Linked DNA regions of Homo sapiens. The protein of the gene in region 1 interacts with the protein of each later gene in a biochemical or structural test. Each region holds a gene or a part of one and is shown on either strand. Other genes may lie near its edges. The genes, in order: IKBKG, SENP2, ARPP19 and IRAK1.

Evidence for each region.
Region 2: the proteins of IKBKG (region 1) and SENP2 form a complex in vitro, tested with the Homo sapiens proteins (2 studies listed by BioGRID and IntAct, with this or other methods).
Region 3: the proteins of IKBKG (region 1) and ARPP19 form a complex in vitro, tested with the Homo sapiens proteins (one study listed by BioGRID and IntAct).
Region 4: the proteins of IKBKG (region 1) and IRAK1 form a complex in vitro, tested with the Homo sapiens proteins (3 studies listed by BioGRID).

What each region holds. Positions count from the first base shown.
Region 1 is NC_000023.11:154,550,601-154,557,619, reverse strand, and holds part of IKBKG (NF-kappa-B essential modulator), read right to left. Parts: intron 5,633-7,019; coding exon of another isoform or gene 5,618-5,632; coding exon 5,431-5,617; intron 1,456-5,430; coding exon 1,244-1,455; intron 1-1,243. UniProt on the Homo sapiens protein: Regulatory subunit of the IKK core complex which phosphorylates inhibitors of NF-kappa-B thus leading to the dissociation of the inhibitor/NF-kappa-B complex and ultimately the degradation of the inhibitor.
Region 2 is NC_000003.12:185,581,278-185,589,295, reverse strand, and holds the start of SENP2 (sentrin-specific protease 2), read right to left. Parts: upstream 3,002-8,018; 5' UTR 2,883-3,001; coding exon 2,782-2,882; intron 1-2,781. UniProt on the Homo sapiens protein: Protease that catalyzes two essential functions in the SUMO pathway.
Region 3 is NC_000015.10:52,566,024-52,573,744, forward strand, and holds the start of ARPP19 (cAMP-regulated phosphoprotein 19), read right to left. Parts: upstream 3,008-7,721; 5' UTR 2,870-3,007; coding exon 2,825-2,869; intron 2,810-2,824; exon of another isoform or gene 2,266-2,809; intron 1-2,265. UniProt on the Homo sapiens protein: Protein phosphatase inhibitor that specifically inhibits protein phosphatase 2A (PP2A) during mitosis. Inhibition of PP2A is enhanced when ARPP19 is phosphorylated.
Region 4 is NC_000023.11:154,010,007-154,016,921, forward strand, and holds the end of IRAK1 (interleukin-1 receptor-associated kinase 1), read right to left. Parts: intron 6,639-6,915; coding exon 6,431-6,638; intron 6,092-6,430; coding exon 6,026-6,091; intron 4,273-6,025; coding exon 4,036-4,272; intron 3,428-4,035; coding exon 3,037-3,427; intron 2,673-3,036; coding exon 2,523-2,672; intron 1,912-2,522; coding exon 1,853-1,911; 3' UTR 501-1,852; downstream 1-500.

The DNA.
Region 1 (7,019 bases):
ACACGGCTGGCCTCGCGGCAAGGACGCTGGCTGCCCCGTCATCTTTCACCTGAGCCTGCACTCGCCCCCTCCCGACTCCCTCCTTCTCCCTTCGCAAGGCCAGGCCGCCTCTGCTGGGGCGGGAACGGAGCTCAGCTCTCTCCCCCGCAAGCAGGGGTTTCTGAAGAAGATCTCTTTTGCCAGCTTGAACAAAGGCCCGCTTTTGTGTACCTTTGTGTATCTCCGGTGTTCTTGTCAAAAGAGGAGGACAGGCACAGAGGCCCGCGGGGACAAGGCCACAGGATGACGGAGATGGAGGCTGGAGAGGTGCAGCCGGCGGCCCCCGGCGCCGTGGAGAGGCCTGGAAGGCAGCTCCCTCGCGGCCCTGGCGGGGAGCCCACCCTGCCGACACCACCGCTAGCTCAGCCTCCAGGCCTCCAGAAGCGGGAGGCCACGCGTTTCTGTGGCTTCGGCCCCGCAGTCTGTGGTGCTTGGTCACGGCAGCTGTAGAAAACTCATCCACTTCCCACACAGGAAATCAACGCCTTAAGCCAGGCGCTCTAAGCCCTGAGTGGAGCGGCGTGCACAGCCCACCATCCACGCCTTTCCCCAGGGGAGTGGAGCCTGGCTGTGGCAAGTGCCAGGTACCCGCCAGCAAGTCTCCTCTCCAGCACTTCTCTCCACCTTGCCCCTCAAAGGGAGCACGGCCCCTTCCTGACTACCATCGCCAGGATCCTGCGATCAGCCAAGCCCACACACAAAGACCCTGAAACCAGGCGGTCTGTGCTAATGACACGATTTATGGGGGGAGCCTTGGGCCACACAGCTGGACCTCTGGTGGCTACAGCCGAGTGACCAGGGTTGGCCACGCAGGCGCTCGGTGCCCACGCGGCCCACCCCCCGTGAAAACCCCGGCCGCCACGGCTGGGGTGAGCTTCCCGGTTGTGACTCCGTGCTCGCTGTCCCACACTGTTGCCGAAAGAAACAGGTGCCGTCTGCACAACTCCCCTGGGCGAGGAGCCGCTGAAGCTCACGCCTGGTCTCTCCTGGAGCCCGCCCTGTGCGCCCTGAGCCTTCGCTCACCGTAACCTGTGTCCTTTCCTTGTAATAAACCGGAACTGGGAGTGTGACGGCTTTTCTGAGTTCCGAGCCCTCCCGGCACAGCACTGAGCCCCAGGGTGCTTTGGGGGACCCCGACCACGGGTTCCCTTGTGGAACACTGGCGTCACCGCGGGTTTTCAGAACCTGGCCCTGCCCCGACTACCTGCTGGCATCTCTTCAGGTGCTCCACCTCCCGCAGAGCCTGCTCCTTCTGCCTCTTCAGATCGAGCTTCTCCAGGCCGAGTCTCTCCACCAGTTTCCTGGCCTCCTGGAACTTGCACATGAGGAACTCCTTCTCCTCCCTCTGGCTGGCTTGGAAATGCAGAAGCTCCTCGCAGCGCTCCCGCAGAATCTGGTTGCTCTGCCGGATGGCATCTGGTGGCAGAGGGGACAGTGGAGGGGAGCTGGGCAGCCCGGCCTGCCGGGCCCTGCCTGGGCCCACATGGGCCTGAGGCTCAGGAAGTCAGAGGCCAGAAGTGGGGCCACCCATCCTGGTGCCCCCACCCGCCATAATACCACGCAGCTTCTCTCAGGGGTGGATGGCGTCTCAACACTCCCTTTTGTTTCTTTAAACACTTCCAAAATCCTTTACACTAATGCCCCTCACTTTCTGCAAGAAAATAACACCAAACACATCAGCTTCACTTAAAAGTACGTGTTGGCCAGGCACTGTGGCTCATGCCTGTAATCCCAGCACTTTGGGAGGCCAAGGTGGGTGGATCACCTGAGGTCAGGAGCTCCAGACCAGCTTGGCCAACATGGTGAAACCCCGTCTCTAATAAAAATACAAAAATTAGCCCGGTGTGGTGGCACACGCCTGTAATCCCAGCTACTTGGGAGGCTAAGGCAGGAGAAGCACTTGAACCTGGGAGGTGGAGGTTGCAGTGAGCCGAGATCACACCATTGCACTCCAGCCTGGGGGACAGAGCAAAACTCTGTCTCAAAAAAAAGAAAAAAAGTATGTGTTAAATGCCACTTTTTTGAATTTTTATTTTTGTAGAGACAAGGTCTTGCTATGTTGCCCAGGCTGGTCTCACATCGTTGGCCTCAAGCAATCCTCCCACCTCGGCCTCCGAAAGTGCTGGGATTATAGGCATGGGCCACTGTGCCTGGCCTTATGCCACTTTGTTTGTAAGTGACTCGAATTCATTTGTATTCTGGTCAGTCTGAGGTGTGCCTGCCCTCAGATGCTCGGTATTGGTCCTCCCTGGCCTACATCTCTGCTGTCTTCTAGATCGGGGGTCCTAACACGCCTGCAGACTCCTAGGGTCAGCCTCCCAGGCAAACTTCACTGCAGCATTGCTGGCTGCAGCCTGAGAGGCCCAAAAGGCTTGGACCAGGCAAGTTAGTGGCGTCTCTGAGCCTCAAAGTCCTCATCTGCATAGTGAACAGAGACAAGAACATTCATCTTACAAGACGAGGAGGGTTAAACGAGGAAGCAGAAAACAAACGGGAAAAACCGCTGGTCCTCCCCTCACCAGAGCATGTGTGCCAGTGCCAGGCAGTCAGCAGAGGCCACAGGAAGGAGAGCCCCACACCCAGGAGACACCCCAAGTAGTGAAGAAGCCATCTGAGGTGACAAAACTGATAAGTGATGTGCCAAGGTTCTAGCAACTCTATAGCAACTACAGAGCTGGATAAAATGGGGCAGGCAGTAGCTACCCCGTGATCAAAACCCTCAACCAACTAACTATTGCCTGCTGACGAGCGCAACATCCACCCCCCATCAGAATCCCGCTTGCTCTGCCCAAAGCTCAGCTCATCTGCAACTTGTCTTTTTTTTTGAGACAGACTCTCGCTCTGTCGCCCAGGCTGGAGTGCAGTGGCGCGATCTCAGCTCACTGCAACCTCCACCTCCTGGGTTCAAGCAATTCTCCCTGCCTCAGCCTCCCAAGTAGCTGGGATTATAGGTGCCCGCCACCACGTCTGTAGCTAATTTTTGTAGTAGAGATGGGGTTTCACCATGTTGGCCAAGCTGGTCTCAAACTCCTGACCTCAGGTGATCCCCCCGCCTGGGCCTCCCAAAGTGCTCGGATTACAGGCATGAGCCACTGCACCTGGCTGGCAACTTGTCTTTTAAAAAATGTTCTGAACTGAGGTAAAATTCACATGACATCAAATTCACTATTTTAACTAATTCAGCAGTTTTCGGTGTATCCATCAGGTTGTGCAACCATCCGCACTATCTAATTCCAGAACAGTTCCGGGACCCCATAAGCAGTCGCTCCCCCAGCACCCTCCTCATCTGCATCTGCCTCTGCAGATTGGCCACTTCTGGACATGTCTCACACTAGTGGAGTCACACACTAGAGACATGCAACTTCTTCGTGAATCTCTCCCTCAACATTCTAAGTACAGCCTCCTCCATGGACATAAGCATGTACATCTTGGGGGACAGACATCTTCTGGGCCCTTAGGGGCTTGGCCCAGGGCCTGACACATGGAGCTACCAAGTTTCACCTGCCACCCACAAAGCTCAGGTCAGGCGGAGCAGGGGGAGTCAATACAGCCTTGAGGCCTCCTTGTGTCCCTGGAGCCCGAGGGAAGCTGCTGCACTGAACACACAGCCTGGAAGGGAAGCAAGGGCGCCATACGCTGTGCCAGGGTCCCTGCACAGCTGGCCTGCAACACTCACCCTCAAGTCCCCCTCAATAGAGCACTCTCCTGGGGATGAGCAGAAGCCCCCAGTCTAACTGTCACCTCTCTGTGCACCAGTGCTTTGAAGATCCCAATACAGTGGGTCTCACCAGGGACAACTGTATCCCCCAGGGGTCATTTGGCAATAAATATCTGGGGATATTGTTAGTTGTCACAACAGGACAGGTGCTACTGGCATCTAGCAGGTACAGGCCAGGGACTCTGCTCCACACCCTACAACGTACAAGAGAATTCTCCAGCCCCAGGTGCCGATGGCACTGAGGTGGGGGACCCTGTCCTGGAACAGGCAGGTCATGTTGGGTCTCCATGCTCCAGCAGGGCCTCTCCAATTCAGCCTCACCGTCGAGGAGACCAAGCAGCCCCCTGACAGCAAGCTGACTGCACTGACCCCTTCCTCCATGGAAGGAAAGGTGATTTGCCTTGACAGTAAGAGGAGACACATCGCAGGCATGGGTCTTGTCTCTGCCCACGGGGTGTCAGCCAGAGCCACTCTCTGAAGCCTACAGACTATGTGACTTGTCAGCACAGAGCCCCACATAACATCTCGGACCACAGTCCAGCAAAGAAGGCGGGGGAGTGGGCCCATGACAGCGATCTCTAGTAGTCACGGCACATGCCACCTCGCCCAGGAGCTGCCAGCCAGCCAGGACACGGAGAGCCAATTGAAGCTGCCAGCTCAGGGATGACTCCTGCAAGGAAGGGGTGTTGTCCTCCACGATGGGGTGGACACTTAGGCCTGAGTCCCCAGCAGGAACCAAAGGATGAAACAAAAAGGGCTACAGGCCCCACCACACCCAGTGAGCCATGTGGGGAGTCTATGCCGCCCCTCCCTGCAGCTCTGGGACCCGAGGCTTAGAAGGCCCCCGCAGCAGAAAGGCAAGAGTATATGGCGGGTGCCACCTGGCCCCGCCAGGCTAACCCAGGGCAATGCAGAGCAGTGGCAGGGAGAGGGGGTGAGGGGGAAGAATGGCAGGGGCTGGGGGTGCCATCACGCCCAGGGCGCGGGCAGGAGCGTGCAGCTGAGCCCTGAACCCATGACGACCTGGAGCTGAGCAGCAAGAGGGTGAGGGGCGCCCGGATGGCAGTCTAGGAAAGAACTCCCCAGTCCCAGCCACTGGGTGTGGGAAGTCAGCCTTCACCTCCGCTGAGGTGTGCGCCGGGATTGCCCCAGAGGAATGTTGCCTGTGGGGGCCACGCACCTTCCTTCCCAAGACAGACCACGCCCCTCTACCAGGGCATGCCCCGCCCATTTCCAGGACAGGCCCCACCCCCTCTCTGGGCAGACCACGCCTCTTCCCAGCGCCGACTCTGCCCTGTCCCAGGATGGACAGCACTTCATGAGTGCTCAGTGCAGGGACACAGAGGCCTGGACATGTTGGTCCAACCTGGAAGGTTCATTCCAGCTCCAGAGCTCCCTGTAAGATCCAGCAAGGCTGTCCTGGAGCCTACCCGGCAGCGTGCTTCTCCCTCTGCCCTCCCTGGCTTCTTCCCCTGTCCCTCCTTTCCCTTCCCAGTACTGGTCCTGAGAGCATGCTAAACTTCCTCCCCGCTAATCTGCATCTCAGAGTCTACTTCCTGAAACCAAGAGGGAGGGCAGCACATCCCCACCCCAGGCCCAGGAAACGCAGAGGTGCAGGTGGGGAGAAGACGCCTTCCCCTCAGCAGGGCTGGATCCCCTGACTCTTTCCTCACCTCGGAGCTCTTGATTCTCCTCCAGGCAGCGCTGGAGGGTCTCAGGAGCGCCCTGTTCTGAAGGCAGGTGCAGCATGGCTGGCTTCCCCAGAGGAGACTCTTCGCCCAGTACGTCCTGATCTGCTGCCGGGCCACCACTGGGCTGCACCATCTCACACAGTTGGCTCTTCCAGAGGTGCCTATTCATCCAACAGGGCAAGGGCTGAAAGAGAAAGGCAGCAGGGGAGTCACAGGAGACCCACATCCTTACCCAGCAGAAAAAGCCTATGAGTTCTGGGGCTACATTTTAAACAGAATGCTGATAATTCACCTAGTGTATCAGGATGCTAAAGTGGGTTTTCAGTCTAAGGGGTAGCAGATACTCCCATTCCAAAGGGAGGTGCTGGACCACCCATGTGGGACTTGAAAAGGCCTAGCTCCAGGCTGGAAATAGAAGAATTTCACCAGAGATGGGAGAGTCGGGACAAGACTGTTTGTGGAGGGAGATGTCAGTATGCTGGGAATCCTGATCCCCTACACACCTCCAAGCAGGAGAAGTGGAGGGTACCGGCCCCTCATCCAGTGTAGTGGGCTGAATGGTAGCCCCCCGAAAAGATATGCCCATGTTCTAACCCCTGAAACATATGTGATTCGGGAAAAGGGTCTTTGCAGATGTAGGATCTCAAGATGAGATCATTCTGGGTGACGTGGGTGGGCCCTAAATCCAACAACGTGTCTTTATGAGAGACAGAAGAGAGAAGCCAGAGGGAGACGCAAGGGGAGGAGGCCATGTCGGGACTGCCTCGGAGACTGGAGTGAGGCAGCCACAAGCCCAGGAATAAATGGGGCAGAAGCTTGGGAGAGGCAAGGGAGGATTGCCCTCTTAGAGCCTTTGAGGGTGTGTGCTTGCTAACCCTTTGGTTTTGGACTTCTAGTCTCCAGAACTGTGAGATTAAAATGTCTGGCCGGGCGCAGTGGCTCACACCTGTAATCCCAGCACTTTGGGAGGCCGAGGCGGGCCAATCATGAGGTCAGGAGATCGAGACCAGCCTGGCTAACACGGTGAAACCCTGCCTCTACTAAAAAAAAAAAAAAAAATTGCCGGTCACGGTGGCTCACGCCTGTAATCCCAGCACTTTGGGAGGCCGACACGGGTGGATCATGAGGTCAGGAGATTGAGACCATCCTGGCTAACACAGTGAAACCCTGTCTCTACTAAAAATACAAAAAATTAGCCAGGCATGGTAGCGGGCGCCTGTAGCCCCAGCTACCCAGGAGGCTGAGGCAGGAGAATGGCGTGAACCCGGGAGGCAGGAGAATGGCGTGAACCCGGGATCGCGCCACTGCACTCCAGCCTGGGCAACAGAGCGAGACTCCATCTCAAAAAAAAAAAATACAAAAAATTAGCAGAGTGTGGTGACACGCGCCTGTAGTCCCAGCTACTCGGGAGGCCGAAGCAAGAGAATCGCTTGAACCCAGGAGGCGGACGTTGCAGTGAGCTGAGATTGTGCCACTGCACTCCACCCTTGGCTTTCAGAACAGCCCCTTCTCCTGGTTTCCTCCCTATCTTGCTGGCTACTCCTGCCCAGGCACTCTCACTGGGTTCCCAT
Region 2 (8,018 bases), on another chromosome or scaffold:
AAAAAACTGTTCTACAACTTAAAAAAGACAAATCTTAATCAAGTGTTATATTTAACTTCATTTTTATCACGCAAACTACATTATGATGGTAATAAAGAACTTTGGAATTGAGGAAAGTTTCAGGACCCAGATGTCAAGAATGCTAAAGGGTCATAGTATATTACTCATCATCTCTCTGAACCCTTATGATCAATTATATTCACACATGCAAAAAAAAAAAATGAATAGAATGAGATCCCAGGATTCCATTCAGCTCATAACTTTATACATTCCAACAAGCCCTGCCGGGCTTCATTTTGACTGAAAATTGGTTTACACTGAGAAGTGTTGTTTTGGATTAAGGATGTGAACACCTAAAGTATAGTAAAGATCAAGGTTTTGATCGCCAAACCATGTTCCACTGACTAGCAGGGATTCACATCAAGGAGAGGACAAGGGAGAGGAAATTAGCTTTCCCTTATTCCATAAATAGGGACCAAGTGCTTATCATGCACCAGACTCTGCAAAAGGCCCCAGAGTAGGACAGACAAATACTACCCTTATATACATTAAGCATCAGTTTAGGCACTTTACACCACGTTCTCAAATGATCCTTATATCAACCCAACGGAAAGATAGGAGAGAAAAATAAGGCAAAACCATGTATCTCTGGAACACACGATGCAATTTAGCCAACAACCAATCTCATCAATAACCTGCATTCTCAGACTAATGTATTAGACATCTTGTTCTCTCAAGCTCCCACAAATGAACACTTCTTCCACTTTTCTTGATATTGAGGCTTAATTTAAAAAATGAAATTAACGGCCGGGCCCGGTGGCTCACGTCTGTAGTCCCAGCATTTTGGGAGGCCGAGGCGGGTGGATCACGAGGTCAGGAGATCCAGACCATCCTGGCTAACACGGTGAAACCCCGTCTCTACTAAAAAATACAAAAAATTAGTCGGGCGAGGGCCGGGCGCGGTGGCTCACGCCTGTAATCCCAGCACTCTGGGAGACCGAGACGGGCGGATCCTGAGGTCAGGAGATCGAGACCACGGTGAAACCCCGTCTCTACTAAAAATACAAAAAATTAGCTGGGCGTGGTGGCGGGCGCCTGTAGTCCCAGCTACTCGGGAGGCTGAGGCAGGAGAAAGGCGTGAACCTGGAAGGCGGAGGTTGCAGTGAGCCGAGATCGCGCCATTGCACTCCAGCCTGGGCGACAGAGCGAGACTCCGCCTCAAAAAAAAAAAAAAAAAAAAAAAAATTAGCCGGTAGTGGCCGGGCGCTGTGGCTCAGGCCTGTAATCCCAGCACTTTGGGAGGCTGAGGCGGGTGGATCACGAGGTCAGGAGTTCAAGACTAGCCTGGCCAAGATGGTGAAACCCCGTCTCTACTAAAAAAAATACAAAAAATATAAGCCGGGTGCAGTGGCAGGCGCCTGTAATCCCAGCTATTCCGGAGGCTGAGGCAGAAGAATCGCCTGAACCCAGTGGGCAGAGGTTGCAGTGAGCTGAGATCGTGCCACCGCACTTCAGCCTGGGCAACAAAATGAGACTCTGTCTCAAAAAAAAAAAAAAAAAAAATAGCCGGGCATGGTGGCGGGCGCCTGTAGTCCCAGCTACTGGGGAGGCTGAGGCAGGAGAATGGCGTGACTCCCGGAGGCAGAGCTTGCAGTGAGCCGAGATTGCGCCACTGCACTCCAGCCTGGGGGACAGAGCGAGACTCCTTCTCAAAAAAAAAAAAAATTAACACTTGATCACTAAAGTTGAAGAGGGGGCATAGAATTTGTATAGTATTTTATTTTCCAGATTTTTAGGTAAGGAGGTCGATACAATAAAATGGGACACTCCAAAGAGTAGATGCTAAATAAGAATAGCTTTTGGGGCTGAGTGCAGTGGCTCATGCCTGCAGTCCCAGCACTTCCAAAGGCTGGGGTGGGCGGATCACTTGAGGTCAGGAGTTCAAGGCCAGCCTAGCCAATATAGTGAAACCCCATCTCTACTAAAAACACAAAAATTAGCCAGGCGTGGTGGTGCACACCTGCAATCCCAGCTACTTGGGAGGCTGAGGCAGGGGAATCGCTTGAACCCAGGAGGCGGAGGTTGCGGTAAGCCGAGATCGCACCACTGCACTCCAGCCTGGGCGACAGAGCAAGACTCCGTCTCAACCAAAAGAAAAAGAAAAAAAGAAAAGAATAGCTTTGCGTTTCCCCCAAATTTTAACCGAATTTAAGAGTACAGACTAGTGATTGTTTTAAAGGAGTGAGGCACCTAAGCCTTTTTACTCATTCACTAATTCTAAAGCACAAAACCCTTCTGGCCCCAAACACACAGACTGTTTGACAGCTGTTTTGGAACAAAACAGGTGCTGTTTCTTGCTGCAAGGACAGTACTTGCAGTCAAAACGGCTTTGGGCAAGCTATGAATCTCACTTCAACTGCACTTAATGTCTGCAGATGACACTTGCGAGGGTGCTTTGTAAACAGTGAGCCACAACAAAGACAGTATTCCTTCAATGTTAGTGTTCAGCCTAAGAGCGGCAAAGCCCCATTTGTTATCAGCAACCAGCTTGGCCTCTGACAAGAATGTCAAAGACCCTGCCATCACCGGCCGCTACGAAGACGACCAGCTCCTCCTTCATCAGGAGCTGCCTCCCTACAGCCTGGCGGGAGCGACTACGTCACTAGGATCCCGGCGACCTGTTTCGGGTGAGCCTGGCTGAATCAAAGCTATCACGGCCGAGGAGCCCGCTGTGGGGGAGGGGGTAAGGCCAGGCTGGCGCTCAGCCCCCTCTCGTCTCACCTGTCTGAGCGCCGCCTCTTCAGGAGGGCCCGGGCAGGGGGCACCGACCGGTCGCAGAAACGGAAAATGGTGCCGAGAATCCTAACCAGCCATCTGTACATACCAGGCCCAAGCAGCAGCGGCGGCCGACACACCCCGAGACGCAAACCCCAGAGCTGTCGCCGCCGCTGCCGCCTTCGCCGTCTTAACCACCACCGCCAGAGTTCGGTCGCTGATTTGTGACGCGATTCAAGAGCCCACAGATACAGCGTCCCCAGGGCTACCAGAGGCCCCCGCCCGCCACCACTCCTGACGTCACCTCCTCCCGCCCGACCGGAAAGCTCCATTCTCAATCTGCGCACGCGCAACCTAGCACCGCTCCCTATTTCCGAGCCCAGCAACAAGAGTAATTGTGGGACGGTCCCGGCCCAATCGCTGACGAGATCGGAAGGGCTGTCGGCAGGGTTTTCTCTTCGGCGGAGCCAATCCGGAGCCGGCCCGTGGGACAAGGCCCACAGGCCACATGTGAGGCTGCTCCACTCCGGAGGAGGCGTTCCGGGGTCCCAGAGGACATTAGGTGCTCAGTGTTTGCTGAATGCACATGTAAAGGTAGATCAGGTTAATTAACACACGTTTACCGTTTTAGGCGCCCTTTATTTTGCACTTACCTTTTGCCTCGTACTTTTCACGCATTGTCACCTTAATATGCCCAGCAATGGCGTGTGACAGAGAGTCTTAAGCCAGTTTTATAAGTCAAGGAAATTGAGGCATAGAGCGATTAAGTTATTTGTCTAAGATCACAAAACTAGCTAGAGACGTGGCTGGAACTTGAACCCGGGGTCTGAGTACCAGCGCCAGTCCCTCGCCCTTGAGGTCAGTCTACTTGGAGACATGTACATAGATAATTACAAATTACAATACACCGTAAGTGGTTGCTGTGATAAAGGTATGTGCAGAGTGCAGTGGGAGCCAGAGAAAGGAAAACCACACACTGAGGGAGAGAAGGAAAGGGCAGATGTCCTCAAGAAAGGCTTCACAGAAATTTAAGGATGAAACCTGCGGCCCACTAATGTCTCCTACCCTGGGCTAGTAAGTAATGAGTCTCGTTACTCTCCCTCTATAATTCCAATGTCACACTTCTAGTTAATTGTCAACTATAGGCCGGGCGCGGTGGCTCCTGCCTTTAATCCCAGCACTTTGGGAGGCTGAGGTGGGCAGATAGCTTGAGCCCAGGAGTTTGAGACCAGTCTGTGCAACATAGTAAAACCCCATCTTTACAAAAAATACAAAAATTAGCCGGGTGTGGTGGCACGCACCTGTAGTCCCAACTACTTGGTAGGCTGAGGTGAGACGATCACTTGAGCCCAGGAGGTTGAGACTGCAGTGAGTCGTGATCACGCCACTGCACTCCAGCCAGGGTGACAGAGTGGGACCCTGACGCACCCCATCAAAAAATTATCAACTGTAAAACAAATCCCACCCTATTTAGTGATAGAAAATCCAGTCCCCTCTTCCAAACAATCCTAAGAATCCTCAAAGGTTTTCATGCCCCACAAATCCATTCCTGATTAACTTGTTTCCTACTTGTGATTCAGTTAAGGCCAGAGTTTTACACTTGCTTGAACTTCAACGCTGGCACTCCCCAGTACAGCCTCTTCCTTTCCTCAATAGACAGCATTCCAGGCCGGGTGTGGTGGCACACGCCTGTAATCCCAGCATTTTGGGATGCCAAGGCAGGCGGATCACTTGAGGACAGGAGTTCAAGACCAGCCTGGCCAACATGGTGAGACAACCCCATCTCTACTAAAAAAAAAAATACAAAAATTAGCCAGGCATGGTAGTACACTCCTGTAATCCCAGCTACTTGGAAGGCTGAGGCAGGAGAATCGCTTGAACCTGGGAGGTGGAGGTTGCAGTAAGCGGAGATTGCACCACTGCACTCCAGCCTAGGCAACAGAGCAAGACTCTGTCTCAAAAAATAAATAAATAAAATAAATACATGTGTGTGTGTATGTGTGTGTGTGTGTGTGTATGTGTGTATATATATATATATATATATATATATATATATATATATATATATGTAGCATTCCAGAATTGTGCTGCAAGCCACCCCCTAGAGCTTCAGAATCACCAGCCACACACCTGAAGCTACCACCACTCTGGCCTCGGGGGCTGGGGTCATATCCTAGAGGATGGAAGCAAATCCTAAGTGTGGACACACCCGCCTCCCTTATTCCCCTAAGCATAGCAAACACCAACCAGGCTGTTGCTGAAAGTTTGGGGCATTACAAAGCTGAGAAGACTTAGAAGTGGCTATTAGATTATGTAGCATCTATAGTCCCTGGCCTATTGTCTCGCAAAGGAATTCCCTTCACCTCAAGGCCATCCCTTTACTCGTAACACCTTTGGCAAGCTGCCAACAGAAGGGACTTTTCCCTCTACCTCTACCCCGACTATTTCAGGCTGGACTCCCCGTAAATGTAATCAAGAGTCAGGACTCCTATTAACAAAAGACAGTCATTGGCATTATTGTGCAAAGCAGTTCAGTTACGTCTGTCCCTTCCACTCACTATTGAGAGTTGGGCTTTGCCTTTGCCAAACCAAGAAGCCCGCTCAAGTACTGGGAGAGGATTCTCCCAAATAAAAGAGCAGTCTTCATTTAAACACGAATCATACATCCTAAGAGAACAATTTTTTTTTCCAAGTTAAAAAACACACACACACATAAATCAGAAAACTACAAGCTCTGCCAGGCACGGTGGTTCATGCCTGTAATCCCAGCACTTTGGGAGGCCGCGGCAGGCGGATCACGAGGTCAAGAGATCGAGACCATCCTGGCCAACATGGTGAAACCCCATCTCTACTAAAAATTAACTGGGCGTGGTGGCGCGTGCCCGTAATCCCAGCTACTTGGGAGGCTGAGGCAGGAGAATCACTTGAACCCGGGAGGCGGAGGTTGCAGTAAGCCGAGATCACGCCACTGCACTCCAGCCTGGCGACAGAGCGAGACTCTGTCTCAAAAACAAAACAAAACAAAACAAAAAACCTACAAGCTGCTTTTGAATAGCAACTTATCCCAGGTCTGGCCACTGAGATTTAAGAAATACTGTGGTAAGCTAGGTGTGGTGACTCACACCTGTAATCCCAGCACTTCGGGAGGTCCAGGCAGAATGATCACTTGAGCCAGGGAGTTTGAGACCAGCCTGGGCAACACAGGGAGACCTGTCTCTAAAAAAAATTTTTTTTTAATTGGCCAAGAGTGGTGGCATGTGCCTGTAGTCCCAGCTACTTGGGAGGCTGAGGTGGGAGTCAAGGCTGCAGTGAGTTGTGATTTCACCACTGCACTCCAGCCTAAGTGACAGAGTGAGATTTATAGTCTCAAAAAAAAAAAAAAAAAGAAAAAGAAAGAAATATATTGGGGTCACACTTGATAGCCCTGCGGTGCAACACAACAACACATTTTTTTTTTTCTTTTCCTGCCTCATAAATAGCACCCTTACAAACTCAATACTGAAACATTGGCCATCTGCCAGGAAGAGTGAGAAGGCTTCAGAATTACAGATCTCAGTCAGAATCTCAGGACCCCATCAGCAAACAATAACTCATGAATCGAATGTGGCAATCCTCAGCCTCCCACCGTGCATGCTCCCTCCATATCCCCCTAGTTACCCTCTAGAAGGAAGAAAAGGAGACGCATCCTTATACTCGCTCCCACCTGGGACTTGTCTGCCAGTTGGTGCCTTCGCTGTCCTGTGGTCCACAGTAGAGACATGGGTGACTGTCCATCCACTGGCCAAGGAGTGGGATTATCCTTAACCCCAACCCCACCACTGCCACAGCCTTTCCGGGACCTAGCAGCGCTTTACTGGAGGGCCATGGGAGAATCCCAAGGCCATATGGAGTAACAAGGACATTGAGATTTCTGCCCTTGGCTTGGATAATTTGCAGCCTTGTACTGCAAGAGGGGCACAACCTCATCGCTTAAGCTTTCGCAGGTGTTCCAATCAGATGCCCCAGTTCTCCAAGAAGATCCTTATCCCCTTTCAGCTCAGAGCAGCTCCTTGAAGCCTTTTCAGGGCCCCACCCCCTTCTTCCTCCAAACCTACCTCCCCTCCAATCCATTCTTTAGTCTTGCAAATTTCCCCTTTTAAAGCATTCAGAGAACTTTAACAAACTTCTTCTCAACTTTGTTTTTCCTGACCCCTGGACAGAAAAGAATTCTAGGCCATTTGTTGGAAAGGGTAAGGGCCCCTAGAGGAGGTTGTGTCGGGTTAGGCCTAATGTGCCTAAAATCCAACATAATTCACCACTCTGTAGATTAATTTCTTTCTAGGTACCAACTCTTCTGGTACTTTTTTTTTTTTTTTTTTTTTTTTTGGAGACGGAGTCTCATTCTGTCACCCAGGCTGGAGTGCAGTGGCACGATCTTGGCTCACTGCAACCTCCGCCTCCCGGGTTCACACGATTCCCCTGCCTCAGCCTCCTGAATAGCTGGGATTACAGGTTTTTCTTAAGTACCAGACGAGGGCTGGGCGCGGTAGCTCACGCCTGTAATCCCAGCACTCTGGGAGGCCGAGGCGGGTGGATCACGAGGTCAGGCGTTCGAGACCAGTCTGGCCAACATAGTGAAACCCTGTCTCTACTAAAAATACACAAAAATTTAGCCAGGCATTGTGGTGGGTGCCTGTAATCCCGCCTACTCAGAAGGCTGAGGCATGAGAATTGCTTGTACCCAGGAGGCCGATGTTGTAGTGAGCCGAGATCGCACCACGATGCTCCAGACTGGGCGACAGAGGGAGACTGTCGCAAAAAAAAAAAAAGAAAAAAGAAAAAGAAAAAGAAAAGATGATGGATGCGGTGGCTCACGCCTGTAATCCCAGCACTTTGGGACGCCGAGGCGGGCTAATCACGAGGTCAGGAGTTTGAGACCAGCCTGGCCAATATGGTGAAACTCCGTCTCTACTAAAAAAATACAAAAATTAGCCAGGCGTGGTGATGCACGCCTATAGTCCCAGATACTCTGGAGGCTGAGACAGGAGAATCGCTTGAATCCAGGAGGCGGAGGTTGCAGTGAGCTGAGATCGTGCCACTGCACTCTAGCCTGGGCATCAGAGCAAGACTCCCTCTCAAAAAAAAAAAAAAAAGAAAAGAAAAGAAAAGAAAAAGAAAAGTGTTTATGTAGATGAAGGGCCTATTCAGTGCCCAGCACAGCTAACTGTTGCTTAACATTTCTCTTGCCTCTCCTTCCTTCTCAT
Region 3 (7,721 bases), on another chromosome or scaffold:
TTTGTATTTTTTAGTAGAGAGGGGGTTTCCCCATATTGGCCAGGCTGGTATCGAACTCCTGACCTCATGATCCGCCAGCCTCGGCCTCCCAAAGCGCTGGGATTACAGGTGTGAGCCACCGTGCCCGGCCAAATTTTATTTTATTTATTTTCTGACACAGAATCTTGTTCTGTTGCCCAGGCAGGAGTACAGTGGTATGATCTCAGCTCACTGCAACCTCTGCCTCCTGGGTTCAAGCAATTCTTATGCCTCAGTCTCCCGAGTAGCTGGGATTATAGGTGTGGGCCACCATGCCTGGCTAGTTTTTGTACTTTTAGTAAAGACAGGGTTTCACCGTGTTGGCCAGGCTGGTCTTCAACTCCTGGCTTCAAGTGATCCACTCGCCATGACCTCCCAAAGTGCTGGGATTACAGCTGTGAGCCACAGCACAGGCCTTTTAAATTTTTAAAAAATATTTTAAAAGTAGCTCACTGTAGCCTCGAACTCCTGGTCTCAAGTGATCCTCCCACCTCAGCCTCCCAAGTAGCTGGGACTACAGGCCTACAGACATGCCACCACACCTGGCTAATTTTTATTTTATTTTATTTTATTTTGTAGAGACAGAATCTTACTATGTTGACCAGGCTGGTCTCAAACTCCTGGCCTCAAGCAATCCTCCTGCCTCAGCCTCCCAAAGTGCCAGAATTATAGGCAAGAGCCACCACGCCTGGCTGTTTTAGTCTTAGAGTGGTATACAAGTTAAGAGATAAGAGTTTATACTTATTTTTTATGTTTGTACATATTGTTTCCTAATACAAGACAGGAATCTATCTGGTTTTCTTCTCTTACCAAGGGTGCACACACCACTCAAGATAGAGAAAGTGACTTAGCTTTTACTCCATGCAAGGCCCAGCTATCTACCTTAATTCTTTAGCGGCAACAGGCAACCTACCAGTAAACTATAAAGGTATTTTTAGCTGAATACTTTGGCTTTAAGTGGAAGGTCAATTGGGTACACAGACAATAACTTAATTTTTTAGGTCATCGAACTGATCTTCCAAATAGAAGAAACAGGTGATTTGGCCCACAGGAACACAGAAGTGACTGTGCACATTTTCTTCATGGTTAGGGACACCATCCACGCCACAGGCACTTAGCATTTACAGCCAATCCTCAATTTAAGAAGGAACATTATATTCCTAACACACTTTGGTTGATTTTAATGACAGCAGCTAAAACCAAAGCACCTTAAATGTTTAATGTAGACAATCAATAAGAGAAAACGTTCAAGCTATCCTTAATATTGTTAAAAGATACATTAGGCTTTTCCAAGTAAAAGTATTTACACTCTAGAAGTCAATACTGCATACTTTGGCAACATACTAACAGAACTTATCAAAGAAAATTACATAGCACACTACTGTGCACCAGAAGTTAATGCTAAGTTTGATGTAAGTGTTTAAGGCAAACCACCACAGACAGGGACTTGTTATTTTTGGGGGCTCCTAAATTTCAAGCAATAATGAACACAATACGCATTTTACAATAAGCAGGTGATACTTAATAATACTGTTAAGATTGCAAACTTTAATATTTGTATTTTTGCCCCCAAAATCCATTTTTTTGGTAATGCGTAAATATATCTATTTTCACGGGATATTCTCAAATAATGTGGTAACTTGGACTTTTACCTATGCTATATGTTTTCTTGTTTTTCAATTACTTTAACATCCTAACAGAAGCACCCAACTTAAGAAAAGTTAACACGGTTTTAAGAACATATGGAATGGGCTTAGAACACTAATCCAATTCCCAACTTAATTAGGACATAAGTGCAACATTAAGCAGAAACCCGCACGAAGGTCAAGCAGTAGACCAAAATCGTATTTAACGGCAACACAACCTGATTTGTAAGAAAAATTGTTGATAAACAATTTAGGAGACAAGATACCTCGGCCCTTTCTCACTTCTCGGCCAGTCACACCTGCCTAGGAGGGCAGGGCGGTGGAAATAATTACAGTGGGAGAGACAAACACCAGCCTAGATAAATACAAAGGCTTGATATTCATAATTTGAACCACAGTGACACTCCCGGCCTATTCCCCTACATCAGGAAGACACAAGGGCGTTTACAAAATATTCCTGTTTCCAATAAAACCCTGATTAATTTCGTGAGTAAAATTTTAAAATTCCACCCTTTCGATTTTTAGTCAAGTACCATATTTGAGTCCCATCGACTGAAACCTTTTTGAGCACAGACTGCGCTGCACACTACACCTGACTCACCTCCTCTAGGCCTCACCCCGCCGTGGGAGGCAAGCACCAGTATTCGGCCTTTACAGGTGAAGACACTGAAGGCCGGACTTTACTCACTGACCATGGTTACAAGGGTTGGCCCTGAAATGCCAATCCTGGCCCACATCGCGGCCCGCACACGAGGCACTGCTTTTGGAGTGAACCGCACGCTCACAATACAAGTAGTTGGAGAGTTCTTCAAAGGAAAAAATAAAACTTCCTAACCAAATTGAGGCTTACAGAAAAACTTAGGCTCTACGCCCAAAGCCTGCGTCCTGGGCTCTCGCGTAAATATAAGTGACTGAGGAACACCGCGACCCACGGAGGTGTTACAAAAGGCACGATTCGGAGTAAACGCGGGGCACGTTGGAACTCCCAATTCGTCGGCGCACCAGCCAGCGACGGCGGGAAGCCAAAGGTGGGGCGCAGGAGCCTCGGCCTCATGCGCCTCGGCCCCGCATCTCGGGCGCGGCCCTCCGCCTGGCGGGAGCAGGCCGCCCGCCAGACCCGGCCTTGGGCAGGGCCCAGGGCTCACGCCCCGCGCGCTCACCTTCTGCTCCTCCGCGGAGGCTGCCTCGGGGACTTCCGCAGACATAGTGCTCCCTCTGCAGACGAGACGCCGGGAAAAGATGCAATTAGCGGGTGGCCGAGGCCACCCGGCCGCCGCCCGTCCCAGCTCTCCCAGGGCCCGCCGGGCCGCCTCCGCCCGCGAAAATGGCCGCCGCCTTATGACGACACGGAGCCGCGAAACGCTCCGCTGGCCAAGGCCCTCGCACGCCGGAGCCCGCCTGCCCCTCCCGCACCGCACCCCTACCTACTTGACCCCGCTTCTCCCGCTCGCTGTCGTCCAAACACTTCCTTTTTTCCTTCAAAGGTCGCCGCTCCTGCCTCACCTCACATCCGTTTGTGGCTGCCGAGTGCTTCCTGGGAATTGTAGTTTCTAAGTGGAACCGCCCCTCCCCGCCCTTTCCTGTCCACTCTGGTCCCCTCGTTCTAGGAGCTTTATTTTACTCTTTCCACTTACCCATCCTCGCCTAGTTCTGTTCTCCTCGCTCTCCGCTCTGTAGCCACACAGGCTGTCTTTTGGGCACGCCAAAAGTCTTGCTCCACTCTGCCACGCCTTCACATCTCCAGTCCTACGTCTCTGCCTCAGAACCTTTCCTTCCTAAACCTCTACACTAGGCCAGAGCCACCTCTTAAAGGCTGTCACAGCCCTGTACAGTTCCTCAACAACATGAACTGTATCATTACACAATTGTCGTGACTTTAGGTCACCTTTCCTTCTCAGATAAGCCGCACCAGGGCAGGGATCTCGTCTGTAATTACTTATATTTTACTCTGAGGGTCCAGCACTTCCTAGATATCTAACGAAGGAATTCAGATTCATTTGTCCACTCCCAGGGGGTCCACTCCCACAAGCTTACCGAAACTGCTAGCATTGAGCTCCCCCAATGACCTTTTTATTTGCCAAGTCCTGCGGCTTCTTACTGAATCCTCATTCTACTTGATATCTGAATAGTTACTCGCAATGTTTGTTGGTTCCAACAAAGTGTCCCTCAGAAACTTGGAAATAAGATTGCCCTCTAAAAGTTAAACTAGTAAAAAGCCACAGAAAATGAATGCATTTCTGGGGGCAGGGGAACAATTGAAAGACCCTAAATGCCTGGATAAGGAATTTGGAAACCATCGAAACTCAACCAGGATGTAGAATCTCAGACAGGAAGAATTGCACTGGAATTGCAACTAGAAAAACAAAAAGAGTTAATATTGCACTCCTTTTGGAGAAACGAAGGAAGGCATTTGTCAGCCAAGGAAGTATTGAAAATAAAAGGGTTCAACAGGCCAACTGTTTGACAAAGATATCCCTTAAGAATGTCTCACGCTGGGCTAGCTGAGAAACTGTAAGATCCACGACATATTTGTTCTCCTTCTATACTCACAAAGTAACATACTGAAAATTTGCCTTTCCCTTAAGCAGAACTGCAGAGAGAAAGAAGAGTGCAGTAGTTAGGCCACTGAAGCATTTAACAGTTGTATTTTTATTAATAAATTGACTGACGTTCTAGTATATGTCCTATATCAATGTATTTGTGAACTTGAGTTAAAATCTGATAGACATACACTTAATGATGAAACTCAGCCTCAAGAAAATTGGCTGTGGCTGGGCACAGTGGCTCACTCGTAATCCCAGCACTTTGGGAGGCCAAGGCGGGCAAATCGCTCGAGCTCAGGAGTTCAAGACCAGCCTGGCCAACATGGCAAATCTCTGTCTCTACAAAAAGAAAAAAAACTTTTTTTTCTTTTTCTTTTTGAGACAGAGTCTCAACTCTGTCACCCAGGCTGGAGTGCAATGGCACAATCTCGGCTCACTGCAACCTCCACTTCCTGGGTTCAAGCAATTCTCCTGCCTCTGCCTCCCAAGTAGCTGGGATTACAGTTGCCCACCACCACACCCTGATAATTTTTTGTATTTTTAGTAGAGACAGGGTTTTGCCGTGTTGTCCAGGCTGGTCTCGAACTCCCGGCCTCAAGTGATCCACCCGCCTCGGCCTCCCAAAGTGCTGGGATTATAGGAGCGAGCCACCACATCTGGCCTTTTTTTTAAAATTGGCTATGTGACCTTGGATAAAAAGAATCTGTTTCTGATAGTGACACTCGCAGAAGGGGAAGTTTGAATTTCTGGGGGCAGACTTTGGTCAAATGGAGAATTCACCATGGGCAATGCTCCACAATGAGGACCTGTCTGGAAAGCCATTCTTTCCCAACTAACACCACTCTGCATCATTATGAACCTTAATGTGTAAAACTGCACACTGGTCCCCAGCACCCTGTTTGTCAAAACTTCCTTCTCTTGATCTCCAGGATACTATTGTCTCATGGATTTCCTCCTACTTAACCTCCCTGTTGAATCTTAACCTGCCTCTTAATGGGAGGATTCTAACAGTTCTGTCCTTGGATCTCCTTCTCTTCTATGTTTACACAGCCTCCAGGAAATAACTTCCACCTTCATAGTTTTTTTTCTTTTTTGAAACAAAGTGTCACTCTGCCACCCAGGCTGGGGTGCAGTGGCACCATCTCAGCTCACTGCAATCTGCCTTCTAGGTTCAAGTGATTCTCCTGCCTCAGCTTCCCAAGTAGCTGGGACCACAGGCACATGCCACCATGCCCGGCTAATTTTTGTATTTTTAATAATTGTAGGCCTGGCACGGTGGCTCACACCTGTAATCCCAGCACTTTGGGAGGCCGAGGCGGGTGGATCACTTGAGGTCAGGAGTTCGAGACCAGCCTGGCCAACGTGGTAAAACCATCTCTACTAAAAATACAAAAATCAGCTGGGCATGGTGGTGGGCACCTGTAATCCCAGCTACTTGGGAGGCTGAGGCAGGAGAATTGCTCAAACCTAGGAGATGGAGGTTGTAGTGAGCTGAGATCATATCACTGCACTCCAGCCTGGGCAACAAGAGCAAAACTGTTTCAAATAATAATAATAATAATTTGTAAAGACGGGGTGTTGCTATGTTGGCCAGGCTGGTCTCAAACTCCTGGCCTCAAGTGCTCGGCCTGCCTCGGCCTCCCAAAGTGCTAGGATTACAGACTTGAGCCACTGCGCCCGGTGGACATTCATAGTCTAAACTGCCATCTAGGGATACCTTGTTTTTTGGGGCTTCATTTTATTGTACTTCTAGATACTGCATTTTTCACAAATTGAAGGTTTGTGGCAATCCTGCATCCAGCCTCTATAGGCGCCATTTCTCCAACACCATGTGCTTACTTTGTGATCGTGTGTAACATTTGGGTAATTCTTGCAATATTTCAAACGTTTTCATTATTATTATATCTATTATAGTGATCTGTAATCAGTTATCTTTGACATTACTATTGTAATTTTGGGGGAGTACCACAAACCACTCCCACATAAGACAGTGAACTTAACCAATAAATGTGTATGCTCTGACTGCTGTACCAACCAGCATTCCCCTGTCTCTCTCTCCTTGGGCTTCCCTATACCCTGAGACACAACGATATTGAAATTAGGCCAAATTATAACCCTACAATGGCCTCTAAGTGTTCAAGTGAAAGGAAGAGTTGCATATCTCTTCCTTTAAATCAAAAGCTAGAAATGGCCAGGTGCGGTGGCTCATGCCTGTAATCCCAGCATTTTGAGAGGCTGGGGCTGGTGGATTGCTTGAGCCCAGGAGTTTGAAACCAGCCTTGGCAATATGGTAAACTTCGTCTCTACCAAAAATACAAAAATTAGCCAGTCTCATAACCCGGTCTCTAAATAAACAAATAAATAGATTAAACATTTTTAAAAAGCTGGAAATGATTAAGCTTCGTGAGGAAGGCATGTCAAAAGCTGAGACAGCCAAAAACTAGGCCTTTTGTGACGAAGAGTTAGCCAAGTTATGAATGCAAAGGAAAGTTATTGAAGGAAATTAAAAGTGCTACTCCTGTGAACACATGAATGATATGAAAACGAGACAGTCTTATCGCTGATATGGTCCAAGTTTTAGTGATCTGTATAGGAGAGCAAACCAGCCACAACACTCCTTTAAGCCAAAGCCTAATCCAGAACAAGGGCTTAGCTGTCTTCAATTCTGTGAAGTCTCAGAGAGGTGAGGAAGCTAAAGAAGAAAAGTTTGAAGCTAGCAGAGGTGAGTTCATGAAGTTTAAAGAAAGAAGCCATCTTCATAACATAAAAGTATAAGGCAAAGTAGAAAGTGCTGATGGAGAAGCTGCAGCAAGTTATCCAGAAGATCTAGCTAAGCTAATTGACTAAGGGGGCTACAATGAGCAACAGATTTTCAATGTGGACAAAACGACCTTCTGTTGGAAAATGTCATCCAGGAGTTTCATACTAGAGGAAGTCAATGCCCGGCTTCGAAGCTTCAAAAGACAGGCTGACTCTCTTCTTAGGGGCTATTGTGGCTGGTGTCTTTAAGCTGAAGCCAATGCTCATTTACTATTCTGAAAATCCTAGGGTTCTAAATCTGCTCTACCTGTACTCTGCAAATGGAACTACAAAGCCTGGATGACAGCACATCTGTTTACAACATGGTTTAGTTAATATTTTAAGCTCACTATTGAGACCTACTGCTCAGAAAAAAAAAATCCTTTCAAAATATTGTAGCTCATTGACAATGCACTTGGTCTCCTAAGAGCCCTGATGGAGGTGTACAAGGAGATTAATGTTGTTTTCATGCTTTCTAACGCAACATCCATCTTGTAGTCCATAGATCAAGGAATAATTTCAACTTTCAAGTCTTTTTTTTTTTTTGAGTTGGAGTCTTGCTCTGTTGCCCAGGCTAGAGTGCAGTGGGTGCAATCTCAGCTCACTGCAGCCTCTGCCTCTCGGGTTCCAGCGATTCTCCTGCCTCAGCCTGTTGGGTAGCTGGGATTTACAGGCACACACCACCACAGCTGGCTAATTTTTTTATTTTTAGTAG
Region 4 (6,915 bases), 540 kb from region 1:
TCTCCCTCTGTTGCCCGGGCTGGAGTGCAGTGGTGGAATCATGGCTCACTGCAGCCTCAACGTCCTGGGCTCAAACTATCCTCCTGGGTCAGCCTCCTGAGTAGCTCAAACTACAGGCATGCACCACCATGCCTGGCTAATTTTTGTACTTTTTGTAGAGACGGGGTTTCGCCATGTTGCCCAGGCTGGTCTCAAACTCCTGGCCTCAAGTGATCTGCCCGCCTTAGCTTCCCAAAGCGCTGGAATCACAGGCGTGAGCCACCGTGCCCAGCATCAATTGCATTTCTGTATAATATCATGATGAACTAGAAAATCAAAGATACCATTTAGAATAGCATAAAAAACATGGACTACATCAGGAAAAACCTGACACGGGAAGTGCTGGGTGTGGCCAGCCCAGAGTAGTAACAAGACCCTGGACGCTCAAGAACCCTGAAGTGTAAGGCATCAGGAAAGCTCAAGGCTTTCGGTGCAACAAAGTCCACAAGTAGAGCCCGAGATTGCAACATACGTTTTTATTACTCAAGGACAACCTGGACGTCACCAATGCCCAGCTTCACGGGGGCATGTAGTGTGACTCACGGCTGAACACAAAATCACTGTGAAGCCTGTGCTACAGCCCTGGGCTACTTTTGGACACGCAAGAGGACACTCGGTTACATGAAACCTGACTTGCTTCTGAAGACATGTGATACATGTCTTTTCCCTGAAAATGTTTCCCTTCCCTGTCTGCCATGCTCCCAACTTTTCTGCCTTCCAGGGGCTTCTCACTGTCTGGGTAACTAGGTCTTGGGCCTAGCTAGACCTTGGGTAGTGGCCCCTCTGCCACAATCAGTGCCTGGGCCTGAGGCTGAGCTTGTGGCCTCCGAAGCCTGACCTGGCTCGGAGCTCGTCTGTGGCGCCCAGGGATGGCCTGGCTTGCAGGCCACCACATTAGGCCAGCTCGCAGGTCCCCAGTAAAGCCTGAAGACACTGGCCCGAGGTTGGAGGTGGGTGCTGCTCGACTTTCTGGAGGATCTCAGAATTCTCGCTTCTTGCTAGGACTGAACCATGAGACTTACAGCCATACTTCACTTTTCCCAGGGTTTTTCTTTTTGAAACAGGGTCTTGCTCTGTCACCCAGGCTGGAGTGCAGTCATACAATCATGACTCACTGCAGCCTCGACCTCCCAAGCATAAATGATCCTCCTACTTCAGCCTCCCCAGCAGCTGGGACCACAGGCGTGCGCTACCACGCCAGGCTAATAGTTTAAAAAATTTTTTGGCAGAGACAGGGTCTCATCATGTTGCCCTGGCTGGTCTTGACCTACTGGGCTCCAGCGATCCTCCTGCCTTGGCCTCCCAAAGTGCTGGGATTACAGGCGTGAGCCACCGCACCCGGCCACACTTTTCCAAATTGTAAGCAGGTAGGAGGGCCCTAGGCCTCGTCGGCCCCATTGTGCAGGGTGGCCACTGTCCAAAGAGATGGGCAAAGAGCTGCTGCCAGAGGCCTGGGCTGCAGACGCCCTGCATGGCTCTCAGGGGAGCCAGCTCCCTACTCCACACCCCTGCACAGCAGCCCCTCTCCTCCCCTCACGGGTCTGTGCAGCCAGCAGCCTCCCAACATGCGCCAGCCTCCTCACTGGATGATGCCAGCCTTCCTTGCCCCCAGATGCTGGCATGGAGGCAGGGTTCCACTCTGCCTGCCTATGCCCACAGAGCCTAGAACAGCAGGGCCACCTCCTTCTCTCCCCCGCGGGCATGGGCCCCCACCCCCACTGCCGGCAGAGTGCTGAGGACTCGTGCACCATGAGAACTTCTGACCATGAGAACTTTGACTTCCGGATTTGGGGGATCTGCCCAGGTGAACACATCAGCTCTGAAATTCATCACTTTCTTCGGGCCCCTGCCTGTCCTGTTCCAGGCCCAAGCCTACAGAAGGAAGAGGAAAGTCCGCTTAGCAAATGGGGGAGGCTCCCCTACTGCCAGAAGCCCTGGCTCAAGGCCTGGGCCATGCTCCCTTATCTCCTGGGGCGTTCGTGGGAATTGAGGGTTTTTGTTTGTTTGTTCATTTGTTTTTGAGACAGGGTCTAACTGTCTCCCAGGCTGGAGTGCAGTGGCTTGATCACAGCTCACTGTAGCCTCCACCTCCTGGGCTCAAGTGATCCTCCCATCTTGGCCTCCAAAAGTGCTGGTATTATAGGCATGAGCCACCTCGCCCAGCTGAGGGTTCCTAAGCAGTGGTTCTTCAAATAGTACCTGGGATGGAAAATTCCTGCTGGGGCTTCCTATTTCCTGAAAGCACAGAGTGGGGCAGGCACCCTCGGGCTAAAGGAGGTGCTACTGTCAGGAGGCGAGGGAAGGAGTGGGCCAGGGTCTTGCTAAGGGAGGCATGTGGGGCCGGCTGGGCTTCTAGAGGTCGCCAGAGCCAGTGGCCTGCCCGGCTGCCCCACGCCCTCAGCGCAGTCGGGACAGACACTCTGCTCTTTGGGGCTGACACGGATGCGCCTGAGCACCCCAGAGGCCAGCCTGGGCGGCAGCACCTGGGAGGGAGCTGGACGACAGCAGCTGCAGGCTGTCCAGGGCCCCATCCTCGTACAGGGCCAGCTTCTGGACCATCTTCTGTCGGGCAGGGTTGATGATAATCTGCGGTGGCTCTGACGACGATGATGCAGAGCTGCCAAGGGCCAGTCCTGGGGTGGAGATGGCACTCCCTTAGCCTCATGCTGTGGCTCCCCAGCCCGCAGCCTAGCACCCTGCCTCCCTGGCCTCAGGCCTGAATTCCTCAGAGAAGTCCAAGGGCAGGGCCCAGCTCTCAGGCTACCAGACAGAGCCCTCCTTGTTCCCAGCCTTCAGGAATGGGGTGGGGGGAGGGCTGGAGAGCAAGCTCCACCTGGGAAGGATGTGGCCTGGGGAGGGGAAACCAGGGTTGCTAAGGTCACAGTGAGCTGAACATTTGGCCCTGGTTCTCTTCTAGAAGGCTGGGGTGGGGACTTACAGGGGCTTTGGCCCAAAGAGGCCTTGGTCCCTCTCCTGGGAACCCGTCTCCCCAGCTACCTTCCACGGCTGTGGGCCGGGATCCTGGGCCACTCCCCCAGCTCGATTCTCCTGCCGTGTCCCCCTGAGGACAGCCGGCCTCCCTGAGGGGTGCTGGGTCCAGAGGGCAGCTTGGAGTCAAGTGCCAGGAGCGCAGGGCAGCAGAGAGGCCGCCTAGGCTCTCGTCACTCTCCACGGGCTGGTTGGGGCCTCTCTGCAGCTGCTCTGCTGCCTGGGCACTGGCTCCTGATGGCGCTGCCAGGGGCTGCCATGGAGCAGCCCCACTGTGGGCTCTGCCAGTGCTGGACACGTAGGAGTTCTCCTGCGGGGAAGGGGGGATGCAGCTGGCGGCCTCCGAATGCCCGGGCACCCCCGCCACCACTGCCTGCAGCTTCTCTAGCCTCTCGTACACCTGCAAGTGGAAAAGAGGGACTCTCAGGGTGAGATGGCAGCCCTGGCCGGTCACCCCGTGGGCAAACCACAGGGCTGCTCCAGGCCGTCCGTGACCTGCCCCAGGGCTCTAAAATGACATACCCTGCAGCTGGGAACGCTCTGCCCCTCGCCCCTCTGTTCCCATCACAGGGAGTGCTGAGAAGCGCGGCTGCCAAAAGCAAGGACTGAGAATGGCCTCGTTCTTTTCTACAAAATGAATCTCACTGCCCCGCTGCCCTCAAACGGGGCCTCTCCATTTTCAACTGTCACCAGAGGAGAAGAGGTGGGGTACTAGGGAGGGGACAGAAAAAGGCAGATGCAGTAGTGCAGTGCGCCCAGCAGGGGGCGCGGCAGCAGCTCTTTCCTTCTCTCTATGTGAAGGGGGTCGGAGCTGGGCTCCGCAAAGCAGGACTGCCCGGGGCCCCTCAGTTCAGAGGGGCGCTGCCCCAAACAGAACCAAAGGGCAAGCAAGAAATGTGTGGAGACTCCAGAGAGACCTAGCAGGTGCTGAGATGGGGTCACTACAGAGCAAGGCCTGGAATGCGGGCTTTCTATCTGGCCACCCCGTCCCAGTGCGCAGCTGGCTACCTGGGTCATAGGAGGCCTCCTTTTGGCCCGGCGGTGCAGGCAGCAGCAGGCCAGCTGGCCCAGGCCCAGGCCCAGCTCAGGTGGGCAGGGCCCGGGCCTGGGGTCCAGGTGCTTCTTGTAGATCTGCATGGCGATGGGAGCAGCCCAGGCATCTGCAGCCAGACCTGCTTGCAGTGTGCTCTGGGTGCTTCTCAAAGCCACTCCAGCCTCCTCAGCCTCCTCTTCCACCAGGTCTTTCTGTGGGATAAATACTGTCAGTATGGCTACCAGGTGGCCACACCTGCAGCTGCAGTCCTCAGGTCCTTGTCACTCAATCGTATGGGTTTTGATAAAAAAAAAAAAAAAAAAAAAAGAGATGGGGTCTCGCTTTGTTGGCCTGGCTGGTCTCCAAGTAGGCTCAAGTGATCCTCCCGCCTCAGCCTCCCAAAGTGCTGGTGTTACAGGTGTGAGACACTGTGCCACAGCTCTTGGTCTTTCTACAACTTACTTTTTTTCTGAGACAGGGACTCATTCTGTCACCCAGGCTGGAGTGCAGTGGTGCAATCATGGCTCAGTGCAGCCTCAACCTCCCAGGCTCGTGATCCTCCCACCTCGGCCTCCCGAGCAGCTGGGATTACAGGTGTGTACCACCATGCCTATCTTGCTATGTTGCCCAGGCTGGTCTCCAACTCCCAGGCTCAAGCGATCCTCCTGCCTCAGATTCCCGAGTAGCTTCTAGAGATTTATTAAACACCTACTGTGGGCCAGTGGTGCTCTGGGCCCTAGGGATACAGGAACAAACAGAACCCTGGGACCCGGTTTGACAGAGCTGACTTCCTGGTGGGGGAGAGCCCCATGGAGCTGGGGTCTGAAGGCAGGAAGTAGCCTGAGAGGGCAGAGCCGAGAAGGAAAGCGCCCCACAGAGAGGTGCCCCACAGACAAAGAGGTACCCCAGAGAGAGAGGCGCCCCGCAGAGAGGCGCCCCCAGGGTGGAAACAGGACCGGAGGCCATCTCCAGTTCTGAAATCAGACAGACCAGGAGGAACCACCTGGGTGGGCGGTGGCTTTTCTCGCAGAGCGAACGGCACATACTAAGGCTGTGAAGCAGGCAGCAGGGAGCGCCCCGAGTCCCAGGGACCTGGGGCGTTGGGGGGTCAACCACATAAGGGACTGGGCCTTCACCCCAAGAGCAGAGAAAAGGCAAAGGGGCCTTTGAAAAGAGCACTTTGGCTGCAGGGTGGGGAGCAAGTGGGGAAGTCCAAGGACCCCCAAGGAGCCTGGTGCGCTTCTTCAGCAGGATGCATGGATGGACGGACGGGGAAGGGAAAGGAAGGAGGGCTCAAGCCCGGCTCCTGGGTTCTCAGCGGGGCTGAATCCTGACGGAGACCCCACAGCACACAGGAACCGCCCCAAACAAGAGGAGAAGCAGTGAAGCAATTACTGGCTGAGCACATTCTGTGAAGTCTGTTTTGCATATGGGAAAACAGGCCCACAGGGGAGCAGGAATTTGCTGGAAGGCCACTGTCAGGCTGGGGCTAAAACCCAGGTCTCTAGTCTCCTGGCCCCACCACAGTCCACGGTGAGGCAGACTGAGTGGAGTAAGACCGTGAGGCAGCTCAGGCTGCCCTGCACGGTGCGGAGAGCTCAGCTGCAGCCTGCTGGGGCCCAGGAGGTTCCTCGGGGCCTGCTTCTTCTCTACCACCGCCTTTCTCCGGCCAGAGTCCTCTGAGTTCCACTGCAGCTTGGGTCTCAGTGCCCTGGGACCGCCCTTCCCCCTGCCCCCAGCCCAGGTGGGGTCTGTACAAGGCCCATAGTGTCTGCAGGACAGACAGGTTTGTCCTCGGCAAGGTAAACGAAGTTGTTTGGAGCCCTGCCTACTTTCAAAAATGAGGCCACTGTGGCAGCAGAGGCATCCATGGGCACTGCGCCCCAGTTATCCCCGCCACTGGGGCTGTGCCTGCTGGCTGCCAGCAGCTGTGTGTCCCTCCTGGCCCTGCCTCAAGGGGCTCACCAGATACTTGGTCCTGGCACCGTGCGTCTTCACAGCCCTCTGACCAGCCAAGGTCTCTAGCACTACCTGGAGAGAGGGAAGAGGGAGAGCATGGCAGTGGCCTTGGCAGGGAAGAGGCCTCTGGTGTGGACATGGATTGGGCCTGACAAGGGTGTGGACAAAGGCAGAGCCAGATGTTATGGGACTGAAGCTCGGGCAACTCGGAGAGCCCACTTGAAGACAAATTACAAACACACAGTTAGGTGCAGGGTGAGGAGGAGGGCCTCGGAGGGAGGGGGACCCTGGAGCTGCAGCCTCCTGGGGTCTTGGCAGATGGCCCCTGGCCCGCAGTGCACTCTGCAGCCCCCACCTCTGCCTGCCTGTGGCTTCTCCTCCTCTGAGCCAGCAGAGGGGTCAGTGGCTCACCACCCCAAAGCTGAAGGTGTCCGTGTCCACAGCCAGCCTTCCCGTCTTGATGTACTCCTCGGGCAGGTAGGCCAGGGTGCCCCGCACTGTCTGTGTCCGGGCCACCATGCTGCTCTGGCTGGGGCTGGACCCGGCAAAGCGGCTGAACCGGGCCAGGCCAAAGTCTCCCAGCTTGGGTGTCAGCCTCTCATCCAGAAGGACGTTGGAACTTGGGGAGAGAAGACAGTGGCGTCAGCCCGGTCCTAGCTCCTACACCTGCCCGGCTTAGATAAGGCTGGACTCGAGGCTGCCAGCCCGGTGCCTTGCCCACAGAAAGCGCTGGCACTGCCCTGAGCGCTCCAGCTGCCTGGGGGCCTCTGCTCATCAGTAGGGCCCATCCTTGGCCCGTTCCCACACCTGTGCGATGCCGGGGTGTTGAGGTCCCAGGCCATGCCTGATCCCCACATTGATAGGACGCGGGGCCCCCCTTGCTGCAGGCCCTGCCC